Homo sapiens: one gene and its partner. The protein of the gene in region 1 interacts with the protein of each later gene in a biochemical or structural test. Each region holds a gene or a part of one and is shown on either strand. Other genes may lie near its edges. The genes, in order: KCMF1 and RGS4.

What was found.
Region 2: the proteins of KCMF1 (region 1) and RGS4 interact in a test that uses a peptide from one of them, tested with the Homo sapiens proteins (one study listed by BioGRID).

The regions. Positions count from the first base shown.
Region 1 is NC_000002.12:85,023,071-85,030,363, reverse strand, and holds part of KCMF1 (E3 ubiquitin-protein ligase KCMF1), read right to left. Parts: intron 2,476-7,293; coding exon 2,308-2,475; intron 1-2,307. UniProt on the Homo sapiens protein: E3 ubiquitin-protein ligase which accepts ubiquitin from an E2 ubiquitin-conjugating enzyme and then transfers it to targeted substrates, promoting their degradation by the proteasome.
Region 2 is NC_000001.11:163,072,128-163,077,362, forward strand, and holds the end of RGS4 (regulator of G-protein signaling 4), read left to right. Parts: exon of another isoform or gene 1-16; intron 17-267; coding exon 268-372; intron 373-677; coding exon 678-739; intron 740-870; exon of another isoform or gene 871-1,150; intron 1,151-1,250; exon of another isoform or gene 1,251-1,328; coding exon 1,329-1,495; intron 1,496-2,193; coding exon 2,194-2,433; 3' UTR 2,434-4,675; downstream 4,676-5,235. UniProt on the Homo sapiens protein: Inhibits signal transduction by increasing the GTPase activity of G protein alpha subunits thereby driving them into their inactive GDP-bound form. Activity on G(z)-alpha is inhibited by phosphorylation of the G-protein.

The DNA of each region.
Region 1 (7,293 bases):
AAAATACATAAACGGGACATTATCAGAATTAGAAGTTTTGTGCTTCAAAGCACACCACCAAGAAAGTGAAAACACAACCCACAGAATGGGAGAAAATTTTTGCAAATCATCTATCAGATAAAAAAACTTACATAAGGAATAAAAAACTATTACAATTCAATAACAAAGACACATTATCCAATTAAAAAATGGGCAAAGGATCAAGGTATTTCTTCAAAGTAGATATACAAATGGCCCATAAGCACAAGAAAAGATGCTCAACATAATTTATATTTCAGAGAAATATAAATCAAAACCACCTGAGATACTACTTTACACCTACTAGGATGGCTGAAATAAAAAGGACAAAAAGTGTGGGCTAGGTAAGAAATTATAGCACGAAGCCAGGCGTGGTGGCTCATGTCTGTAATCTCAGCACTCTGGGAGGCCCGCAAGTGGATCACCTAAGATTAGGAGTTCAAGACCAGCCTGGCCAACATGGTGAAACCCTGTCTCTATTAAAAATACAAAAAAAATTTTCTGGGCATGGTGGCGGGCACCTGTAATCCCAGCTATTCAGGAGGCTGAGGCAGGAGAATCGCTTGAACCCAGGAGGTGGAGGTTGCAGTGAGCTGAGATGGCGCCATTGCACTCCAGCCTAGGCGACAAGAGTGAAACTCTTGTCTCAAAAAAAAAAAAAAAAAAAATTATAGCATGAAACATTTATATATTTTCTTACAATGTCTTCTAATCAACTGTAGAAACAATCTGCCTTTTTTTTTTTTTGAGATAGCGTCTTGCTTTGTTGGCCAGGCCGGAATGTAGTGGCACAATCAGGGTTCACTGCACACTTGACCTCCTGGGCTCAAGTGATCCTCCCATCTCAGCCTCCCAAGTAGCTAGGGCTACAGATGCATGTGCGCCACCACATCCAGCTAATTTATTGTATTTTTCGGGGGTGGATGCAGAGACAGGGTTTTTGCCATGTTGCCCAGGCTCATCTCAAACTCCTGGGCTCAAGTGATCTGACCATCTTAAGCCTCCCAAAGGGCTGGGATTACAGGCGTTAGCCACCATAACCAGCCAACAATCTGTTTTCTGGTCACTACAAAAGCTATTATTGCTGGGCATGGTGGCTCACGTCTGTAATCCCAGCACTTTGGGAGGCGAAGGCAGGTGGATAACTTGAGGTCAAGACCAGCCTGGCCAACATAGTGAAACTTCATCTCTACTAAAAATACAAAAAAATTAGCTGGGCAAGGTGGCACACACCTGTAGTCTCAGCTACTCAAGAGGCTGAGGCACGAGAATTGCTTGAAGCCAGGAGGCAGATGTTGCAGTGAGCCGAAATCCGGCCACTGCATTCCAGCGTGGGCGACAGAGTGAGACTCTGTCTTAAAAAAATAAAAAATAAAATAAAATAAAGCTATTATTTGTGTGTTAATAGCACGAACAAAAGACAGAGCATATTTCTTCTTTACTGAAGCACTCTTCTATTTCATTCCTTGTCAGTTGTGTATATTTCTGAATGGTTTTTTTAAACAAGTAAACTATGATTAAGATGAACAGACAGAATTACTTAGTACGTAAAAAGTAAGGCCGGGCGCGGTGGCTTACGCCTGTAATCCCAGCACTTTGGAGGCCGAGGCAGGTGTATCATTAGGTTAGGAGTTCAAGACCAGCCTGGTTAACATGGTGAAACCCTATCTCTACTAAAGATACAAAAAATCAGCCGGGCATGGTGGTGCACGCCTGTAATCCCAGCTCCTTGGGAGGCTGAGGCAGGAGAATCGCTTGAACCTGGGGGGTGGAGGTTGCAGCGAGCTGAGATCACGACATTGCACTCCAGCCTAGGCGACAGGGTAAGACTCCTCAAAAAAAAAAAAAAAAAAAAAAAAAAAGCCAGGCACAGTGGCTCACGCCTATAATCCCAGCACTTTGGGCGGCTGAGTCGGGCAGATTGACTGAGGTCAGGAGTTCGAGACCAGTCTGGCCAACGTGGTGAAACCCTGTCTCTACTAAAAATACAAAAAAATTAGCCAGGCGTGGTGGTGTGCACCTGTAATCCCAGCTACTCGGGTGGCTGAGGCAGGGGAATTGCTTGAACCAGGGAGGTGGAGGTTGCAGTGAGCCAAGATCGCGCCATTGCACTCCAGCCTGGGCAACAAGAGCGAAACTCCGTCTCAAAAAAAAGTAAGATTTATTTCATGTTTAATGAATTTGGGGCTTATGGTATGCTGCTGGGGAGTTTTAGAACACTTTGCCTTTACTTCTTCAACGTACATAAAATTCTAAATGATGTAATTCATTAAATTTTTAATTACTTACCAAAATCTACCCTTGTTAATATGCACTGCATTGGGTGGTCAGTTGTATGCCTTGTTGTTGTTGCACCACTTTCATAACAAGATGCACAAAGATCGTAATCGTAGCAAATTAAACACTTATATCTGCGACCTCGAAAATTTCCTTTTAAACATGCATCACAGCTGACACCTATAAAAAAAAGAAATATCTTTAGTTACCAGTTGTAAAGGCCACTCTTGATTTCATTTTTATGAATGTTTCAGGTGCTCATTTAACCTCATATGTCCTTTCCAAAATGACTAGAAATGACTTAGTAAAATGATACGGGAAGTTTTAGCCATGTGCTGGATTCATTACTCTGATTTATACTCCACATGAAAATAATTTAAAATGACTGATACAGGCTGGGTGCAGTGGCTCACGCCTGTAATCTGAGCACTTTGCGGGGGTCGAGGCGGGTGGATCACTTGAGGTCAGTAGTCCAAGACCAGCCTGGTCAACATGTTGAAACCCCGTCTCTACTAAAAATGCAAAAATTAGCTGGGCGTGGTGGCTGGCACCTGTAATCCCAACTACTTGGGAGGCTGAGGCATGAGAATTGCTTAAACCCAGGAGGTAGGGTTGCAGTGAGCTGAGATCGCGCCACTGCACTCCAGCCTCACAACAGAGTGAGGCTTTGTCTCAAAAAAAAAAAAAAAAAAAAAAAAAAAAGCCTTGATAAGCCAGCAAGAAGGTAAAAACCAAGACGAAGAGGAACTGGTGACTGGAAGCACTAAAGAAGGCTTTTCACCATGAGGGTATTTGCCCAAGCAGGTAAAAATCTAAGCTTAAGGTCCACAGCATTATTGGACAAAGGCCTAGTGAAGGTGGGATAATTAACAGAAGATTCCTCATAAAACCAAGACCCTAATATACTCTCAATGCATGGGTAGGCTAGAAATCCTCCCTAGGGGATTACAAAAATTACCCCAGTGAAAGCCCCCTGCCCTAGGGGCACAAAATAACACAAAAAGCCATAACCACAAACCAGTCCTCATGGGTTTATAGCCCAAATTCTATCAAATGGTTCCAAAGACCTTGGGTCAAGAATTTTAAGTGGTCTTAAATTAGAATTGATACCAAGCATCTGGCATATATAAACATCCAAAGAATAAGTTCATAATTTAAACCATAAAATACACACAAAAAAACAAAGCACCATCAGAAAGAACTAGCAGGAGCAGCAGAATCAGTCATGAGTTCATATCAGAATTGGGGCATCAAATAATTCTTGACCTGTTAAAAGAAATAACTGGGTGTGGTGGCTAACACCTATAATCCCAAGCACTTTGGCAAGGCGAGGCAGGGGGATGGCTTGAGGCCAGGAGTTCAAGACCAGCCTGGGCAACATAGAGAGATCCTGTCTACAAAAAAATTTAAAAATTAGCTGGGCATTGTGGCCTGTGCCTGTAGCCTTAGCTACTTGGAAGGTTGAGGTGGGAGGAATGCTTGAGCCCAGGAGCTCGAAGCTGCAGTGACCATGATCAAACTACTGCACTCCAGCTTGGGAACAGAACAAGACCCTGTCTGGAAAAAATAAAAATAATAATAATAATAATAATAATAATAATAATAATAAAGGAAAGAAAGAAGCTTGAACAGGGCTGGGTGCCATAGCTCACACCTGTAATTCCAACACTTTGGGAGGCTAAGACAAGAGGGCTGCTTGAGGCCAGGAGTTCAAGACCAGCCAAGGCAACATAGAGAGATCTCATTTGTATTTGTTTAAAAAAAAAAAAGTTAAAATATGCCAGGCGCAGTGGCTCACGCCTGTAATCTCAGCACTTTGGGAGACTGAGGTGGGCGGATCACCTGAGGTCAGGAGTTCAAGACCACCCTGACCAACCTGGTGAAACCCCATCTCTACTAAACATACAAAAATTAGCCGGGCGTGGTGGTGGGCGCCTGTAATCTCAGCTACTTGGGAGGCTGAAGCAGAAGAATGGCTTGAACTCAGGAGACGGAGGTTGCAGTGAGCCGAGATCATGCCACTGCACTCCAGCCTAGGCGACAGAGTGAGACTCTGTCTTTAAAAAATATTTTTAAAAAAGTTAAAATTTAAAATTCTGTAGGTGGGTTTCATAGTTTTATTCACATGTGATCTGCTTGTTTATGCTGAAAACCCAAATACAGCTAAGTTATTAGAAGCAGTAAGCAAAGCTGTTAGATAGAGACCTCCTAAATAAAGTACTGATTGTATTTCTTCACTGCAAAACAGACAGAAAAACATATTATTAAAAATATGTCATTTATTACAAAAAAATTAGTGAGGCATGGTGGTGTGTGCCTGTAATCTCAGCTACTCGGGTGGCTGAGGGAAGAGAATCACTTGAACCCAGGAGGCAGAGGTTGCAGTAAGCTGAGGTTGCGCCACTGCACTCCAGCCTGGGTGACAGAGCGGGACTCCTATCTCAAAAAACCAAAAAAATGTCATTTGTGATTCCATCGAGATGTGCCAAATTCAAAGAGAAGGAAAGTAGAACAGTGGTTGCCAGAAGCTTGAGGAAAGGGAGAACGGGGAGTTACGGTTTAGTGGGTAGAGAGTTTTCAAGTTTGGGATAATGGAAGAATTCTGGAGATGGACAGTGGTGATGGTTCCAAGAATGTGAATATACTTAATGCTACTGAACTGTACACCTAAAAGGGGTTAAAATAAATTTTATGCTATGTATATTTTACTGCAATAAAAAAATAAGCCATTTGCAACAGCATTTTAAAAAAGTGCCTATGAATAAATCTAACCAAAGATAGGCAGCCCTTTATGAAGCAAATTAGTAAAAATGTATTCAAAGACACTAAAGGACTTTAAAAAATATAAATACCAACTTCATGGACTGGAAGGTTCATAATAAAATGTCAACAGATTTGTGGATTCAATACAATTAATAACCAAAATTTAAAAAGAATTTTTTTGTGGGGCATGGTAAGCTGACTCAAATGTTGATGCAAGTTACAAAAAGGGCCAAGGAGAGTCAAGATGCTCCCAAGAAAAATGAGATAGAGGGACTTGTTTTATATATCAAGAGCTAAACTAATAAATAATAAGTAACACCATAACAAATAATAAACCTATAATAACTACAGTAAGATGGAATGGCACCAGGGTAGAGACAAACTGGCCCATGGAATAGAACGGAAAGACCAGAAACAGATGTTGAAATCTGTTTTACAACAGCAAGGTCACTAAAGAGCACTGAGAAAAAAAGGGAATGGACAATAAATGGTGCTGAACAGGTGATTATCTGCATGTGGGGAAAACAGAATTGGATCTCTCCCCATATCCTATACACACAAAAAATCAATTCCACATGGTTTAAAGACGGATTCAAAAGAACAATGAAAAATATCTCTAGAAGACAATATAGAATATTTTTATGAGTCTAAAGTAGAAAACAATTTCTTAAATCTTTCTCTTTCTCACACACACACGCGCACACACACACACACACACACACTCTCTCTCTCTCTCTCTCTCTCTCTCTCTCACTCTCCAAATCAAAAAGTAAGAGATAAGTCCAACTACGTTAAGACTTTTTCTTCATCTTTTGTTTTTGTTTTATTCTTTTGAGATAGAGTCTCACTCTGTCGCCGGGGCTGGAGTGCAATGGTGAGATCTTGGCTCACTGCAACCTCCGCCTCCTGGGTTCAAGCAATTCTCCTGCCTCAGCCTCCCAAGGAGTTGGGATCATAGGCGCCTGGCACCATGCCCAGCTAATTTTTGTATTTTTAGTAGAGACGGGGTTTCACCACGTTGGCCAGGCTGGTCTCGAACTCCGGGTGATCTGCCCGCCTGGGCCTCCCAAAGTGCTGGAATTACAACAGGCGTGAGCCACCACGCTCGGCCTTTTTCTTCGTCTTTTCACAGCCTACATTGATTGAAAATATAAGGTTCAGAAACTGGCGATATGTACAACATACATGACAGACAAAAGTTTGGTATTCAGAATGCATTATGAACTCTTACATATCAGTAAGTAAATGATGAATGCTTAGTAGAAAAATGGAGAAACCTGTCAAAGGGCACTCAAAGAACAACAAACATAAATGGCCAGTAAACATATGAAAAGATGCTCAATCTCATTAGTCATCAAAGAAGTGCATGATTAACATCCGTGAGCTAGCATTTTACATTTACCAAACCGGTAAGAAACTACAAGTTTCATGATATCAAGTGTTAGTGAAGATAAAGGGCAGCAGAAGTGCTTATACCCTGCTGGTAGGAGTGTAAATCAGCACAACCACTTTGAAAAATTTGTTCATATTTTTAGTCAAGTTAAACACATATACCTCCTATGATACCGTAATTTCACTCTTAAATAAATTCCCGGGGAGGGAATCTTTTGTCTGTGTGCACCTAGAGAATGTGGAAGAATGTTGACGGCAGTTTTTGTAACTGAATTTTAAAAAGGCTACTCAGGGGCTGGGCGCGGTGGCTCACGCCTGTAATCCCAGCACTTTGGGAGACCGAGGCGGGCGGATCACAAGGTCAGTAGATCGACACCATCCTGGCTAACACGGTGAAACCCCGTCTCTACTAAAAATACAAAAAAAAATTAGCCAGGCGTGGTGGCGGGCGCCTGTAGTCCCAGCTACTCAGGAAGCTGAGGCAGGAGAATGGCGTGAACCCAGGAGGCGGAGCTTGCAGTGAGCTGAGATCGCGCCACTGCACTCCAGCCTGGGCGAGAAAGTGCGAGACTCCGTCTCAAAAAAAAAAAAAAAAAGGCTATTCAGATTCAAAGGCTCAACAGTTCAATATGCACAGAATGAATTGGAAAAAGAATGAATCACAGCAACGGTAAGAACATCTGCCTCAGATGAGTGAAAGGAAATTTCAAAGAATACATACAGTATTGGCCGGGCGCGGTGGCTCACGCCTGTAATCCCAGCACTTTGGGAGGCCGAGGCGGGCGGCTCATGAGGTCAGGAGATCGAGACCATCCTGGCTAACACAGTGAAACCCCGTCTCTA
Region 2 (5,235 bases), on another chromosome or scaffold:
TTCTCAGGTTTCTGAGGTAAACTGAAGGGTCAGAATTCCAGTTGTGGATGAAGGAAATGGTGTTATGACTGCCTCAAGGTTTTGTAGCAAGTCATAGGGAACCAAGAGGAATCTTGTTTTCCTCAGAGGTCATGCCAACTCCAACTCCCGTTCCCTAAACTGTCTCTGAGCCATAGACTAGTAATGGACTCTTCAAGCTCTACCATTAGGTATCTTTTAAAGAAAGCTGGTTATTACTATTTATTCATTTTTTTCTCTTCTGTGCAGTGCAAAAGATATGAAACATCGGCTAGGTTTCCTGCTGCAAAAATCTGATTCCTGTGAACACAATTCTTCCCACAACAAGAAGGACAAAGTGGTTATTTGCCAGAGGTAAGAGAAAAGGCCTTGGTGAAGATGTACTTAGTATTAACTATCTGATGATGGGGATGTTCTGTGAGAAGGAACTTGTGCTCCTAGTTAAGCCAGATTTGGATCAAGATAGCCTCCATTTTCATGGAGATCATAACTACATTTGAAATTTCTATACATTTAGTGAAAAACTGCCCTCATCAATAACATATTTTGTCATAACGATGGAAAATAAAATCTTTGCCTTCATTCAGGATCTTAGATTTCTTGCCCCAATTTTTTTACCATGGCATTCCAATTATTCTGTTTCTCTCTATTTTTTCTAGAGTGAGCCAAGAGGAAGTCAAGAAATGGGCTGAATCACTGGAAAACCTGATTAGTCATGAATGTAAGTCTGACAGCAACCTGGGATGAGGTACTCTGGATAAGACAAGTTATATTATGCTGGTCTAATAGAAACTGCAGCAAGGCCTGGCTTCTTTCTGATGTTCAGACTCAGGAGACTCTTTAGGTCTTAAATTCAGTCTGTTTAAAATTTTAATATGCCCTAGAGCTTTGTGATATACAATGAAAAGTTTATGCAGGAACCATGTGGAAAACCATCTCTCTCATCACAAGGAAAAACGGAAGAGAGAAAAAAAATGATAAATATCAATACCTTCTTGCAAAATCAATCTCAGTTTCTCTTTCCCAAATTGACCTTGGTAATTGATAGCTGCATAGGCATTTCAGAAGCAAAATACTTCCTTGAAAGAGGCTTCCAACTTGAGTAAGAATCATTAGGTAGAACTGGGAACCACTGGATATCAAACACAGATTAGGGTTACCTGACTCCAGGTGACTTGAAAAAAGCAGGGGAAAAAGGGATTGCTTGAATCCATGCTTTATCCCCCAAGTACCTCAGCTTTATGTGAAATAGCATATCCAAGAGGCCAACCAGTGTGATGACAACTGTGGTCCTTTCTCCTGTATCATAGGTGGGCTGGCAGCTTTCAAAGCTTTCTTGAAGTCTGAATATAGTGAGGAGAATATTGACTTCTGGATCAGCTGTGAAGAGTACAAGAAAATCAAATCACCATCTAAACTAAGTCCCAAGGCCAAAAAGATCTATAATGAATTCATCTCAGTCCAGGCAACCAAAGAGGTAGGTTTTTTATGGATACATAAAAATTGTACGTATTTATGGAGTATGTGTGATATTTTGATACATGCATACAATGTGATAACAATCAAATCAGGGCAATTGCTATATACATATCTCAAACATTTATTATTTCTACGTGTTGAGAACATTCCAAATCTCCTCTTCTAGCTATCTTAAAATATACAATAAACTATTGATAACTATATCACCCTAATGTGCTATCAAACACTAGAACCTATTCCCTCTACCCAACTTTCTATCTATTCCTTCTACCCATTAGCCAACCTGACCAAAAAGGTAAGCTTTTATGGCAGAGAACTCTCTGGATCTTAGTGAAGGTTCCTAGAATAGTGGAGCTGACTATCATAATCTTGACAACCCCAAATAAATCAGTTTTTTAAAAAATCTCTTTTATCCATGTGGCTTACCATAACCTCCCTGCATGAATTTTTCTGATGAATCTCCCCAATTTGTTAGACAGAACAGAAGATCTTGCCCTGCTCTCTCTAAAGCAGAAAGGTTCATTCTGAACCTTTCATACTCTCTCACATGTGCCAAGGAGGACCCCAATGTCACTTTTGTTTTTTGCTTCTGAAATACAGAGGGTGCACTGCCACTTACAAGTCACTACAAAGCATACAGGCTTGCATCCTCAACAGGGATATAGGTCTAATGAAGCCTTGGCCTTTGCCCCTCAGGTGAACCTGGATTCTTGCACCAGGGAAGAGACAAGCCGGAACATGCTAGAGCCTACAATAACCTGCTTTGATGAGGCCCAGAAGAAGATTTTCAACCTGATGGAGAAGGATTCCTACCGCCGCTTCCTCAAGTCTCGATTCTATCTTGATTTGGTCAACCCGTCCAGCTGTGGGGCAGAAAAGCAGAAAGGAGCCAAGAGTTCAGCAGACTGTGCTTCCCTGGTCCCTCAGTGTGCCTAATTCTCACCTGAAGGCAGAGGGATGAAATGCCAAGACTCTATGCTCTGGAAAACCTGAGGCCAAATATTGATCTGTATTAAGCTCCAGTGCTTTATCCACATTGTAGCCTAATATTCATGCTGCCTGCCATGTGTGAGTCACTTCTACGCATAAACTAGATATAGCTTTTGGTGTTTGAGTGTTCATCAGGGTGGGACCCCATTCCAGTCCAATTTTCCTAAGTTTCTTTGAGGGTTCCATGGGAGCAAATATCTAAATAATGGCCTGGTAGGTCTGGATTTTCAAAGATTGTTGGCAGTTTCCTCCTCCCAACAGTTTTACCTCGGGATGGTTGGTTAGTGCATGTCACATGACATCCACATGCACATGTATTCTGTTGGCCAGCACGTTCTCCAGACTCTAGATGTTTAGATGAGGTTGAGCTATGATATGTGCTTGTGTGTATGTCTATGTGTATATATTATATATACATTAGACACACATATACATTATTTCTGTATATAGATGTCTGTGTATACATATGTATGTGTGAGTGTATGTATACACACACACACACACACACACACACACTTTTGCAAGAGTGATGGGAAAGACCCTAGGTGCTCATAACTAGAGTATGTGTATGTACTTACATGGGTGTTTTGATCTCTGTTCTTTCATACTACATTTGAACAGGGCAAAATGAACTAACTGCCATGTAGGCTAAGAAAGAAATGCTAACCTGTGGAAAGTTGGTTTTGTAAAATTCCATGGATCTTGCTGGAGAAGCATCCAAGGAACTTCATGCTTGATTTGACCACTGACAGCCTCCACCTTGAGCACTATTCTAAGGAGCAAATACCTTAGCTCCCTTGAGCTGGTTTTCTCTGATGGCACTTTTGAGCTCCTAAGCTGCCAGCCTTCCCTTCTTTTCCTGGGTGCTCAGGGCATGCTTATTAGCAGCTGGGTTGGTATGGAGTTGGCAGACAGGATGTTCAACTTAATGAAGAAATACAGCTAAGGCCTTGCCAGCAACACCTGCCGTAAGTTACTGGCTGAGTGAGGGCATAGAAGTTAAAGGTTACTGTTTTTATCCTCTATCCTTTTTTCCTTTCCTGATCAAGGTGCTCTTCTCATTTTTTCCTGAGAACCTTAGCCATCAGATGAGGCTCCTTAGTTTATTGTGGTTGGTTGTTTTTTCTTTATAATGGCTCTGGGCTATATGCCTATATTTATAAACCAGCAGCAGGGGAAAGATTATATTTTATAAGAGGGAACAAATTTTCACAATTTGAAAAGCCCACATAAGTTTTCTCTTTTAAGGTAGAATCTTGTTAATTTCATTCCAAACATCGGGGCTAACAGAGACTGGAGGCATTTCTTTTTAGGCTCTGAGACTAAATGAGAGGAAAAGAAAAGAAAAAAAAAATGATTGTCTAACCAATTGTGAGAATTACTGTTTGAAACTTTTCAAGGCACATTGAAATACTTGAAAACTTCTCATTTATGTTATTTATGATGTTATTTTGTACGTGTTATTATTATTATATTGTTTTATAAATGGAGGTACAGGATATCACCTGAATTATTAATGAATGCCCAGGAAGTAATTTTCTTCTCATTCTTCTAAAACTACTGCCTTTCAAAGTGCACACACACGCGTCCACATACACTGCATTCGTTGCTCCAGTATAAATTACATGCATGAGCACCTTTCTGGCTTTTAAGCCAATATAATGGGCTGCAAAATGAAGACACCAGAGTGTATGCATACAAATCTCACTGTATTAAAGATGCAGGTTTTCTAATTGTACCCTTCTTGTCTCTCTGGCAATCTTGCCCTTAATATCCCTGGAGTTCCTCATCAGTGTCATTTTCTGTTATACACAGTTCCACAATTTTGTCTCTAGTTGACTTCAAATGTGTAACTTTATTGGTCTTGCCCTATTATAATTGTCATGACTTTCAGATTGTATCTGAACTCACAGACTGCTGTCTTACTAATAGGTCTGGAAGGTCACGCTGAATGAGAAGTAAATTATTTTATGTAATACATTTTTGAGTGTGTTTTTCAGTTGTATTTCCCTGTTATTTCATCACTATTTCCAATGGTGAGCTTGCCTGCTCATGCTCCCTGGACAGAATACTCCTTCCTTTTGCATGCCTGTTTCTATCATGTGCTTGATAGGCCTCAAAGCTAATGCTTCCAGTGAAACACACGCATCTTAATAATAAGGGTAAATAAACGCTCCATATGAAACTATTTGCTTGGAAACACATTAATGATCCAGAGACATGCTATGAGAAACATCAGGGTGTAGGGTGACTTTAGAAAAATACTCATACTGAGTCTTTAATCCCTCCTGTGCCAGTGAACTCTGGGAAAGAAAGTACAAACTGAATATTGTTTATTCTTTAGTTCATGCCACTGCTCTGCTTGGCTCTACTCATAGAACCAAGGCAATCTTAGCTTCAGAGACTGCAAAACAGATTAAGTGATTTGCTTGCAGATTCTCAATCAATTTTCAAGGGATAGAGTTCACCTTCCAGAGCCATTCTTTTATTTCCAGTTACCCGCCTGTTTGAGAGATGATAGAGCAGTGGGAAATTGAGAGAGTTGAAAGGAGCTATAGATTCTTACCCAAACTTCAAAAATCCTTCCCTCCCTTTTGTTAATTCTCTTTCCTGGAAAAGAGGTCATAAAATGTTCACATCCTCAGTAATAGGCCCTGTGCTGTGTCTATTATGTCATGAGACTCCCATTTCCTGACCCTTCTTTCCCATTGTAAGAGTAGTAGTTACAAGGTGTTAAGGATAGATGAT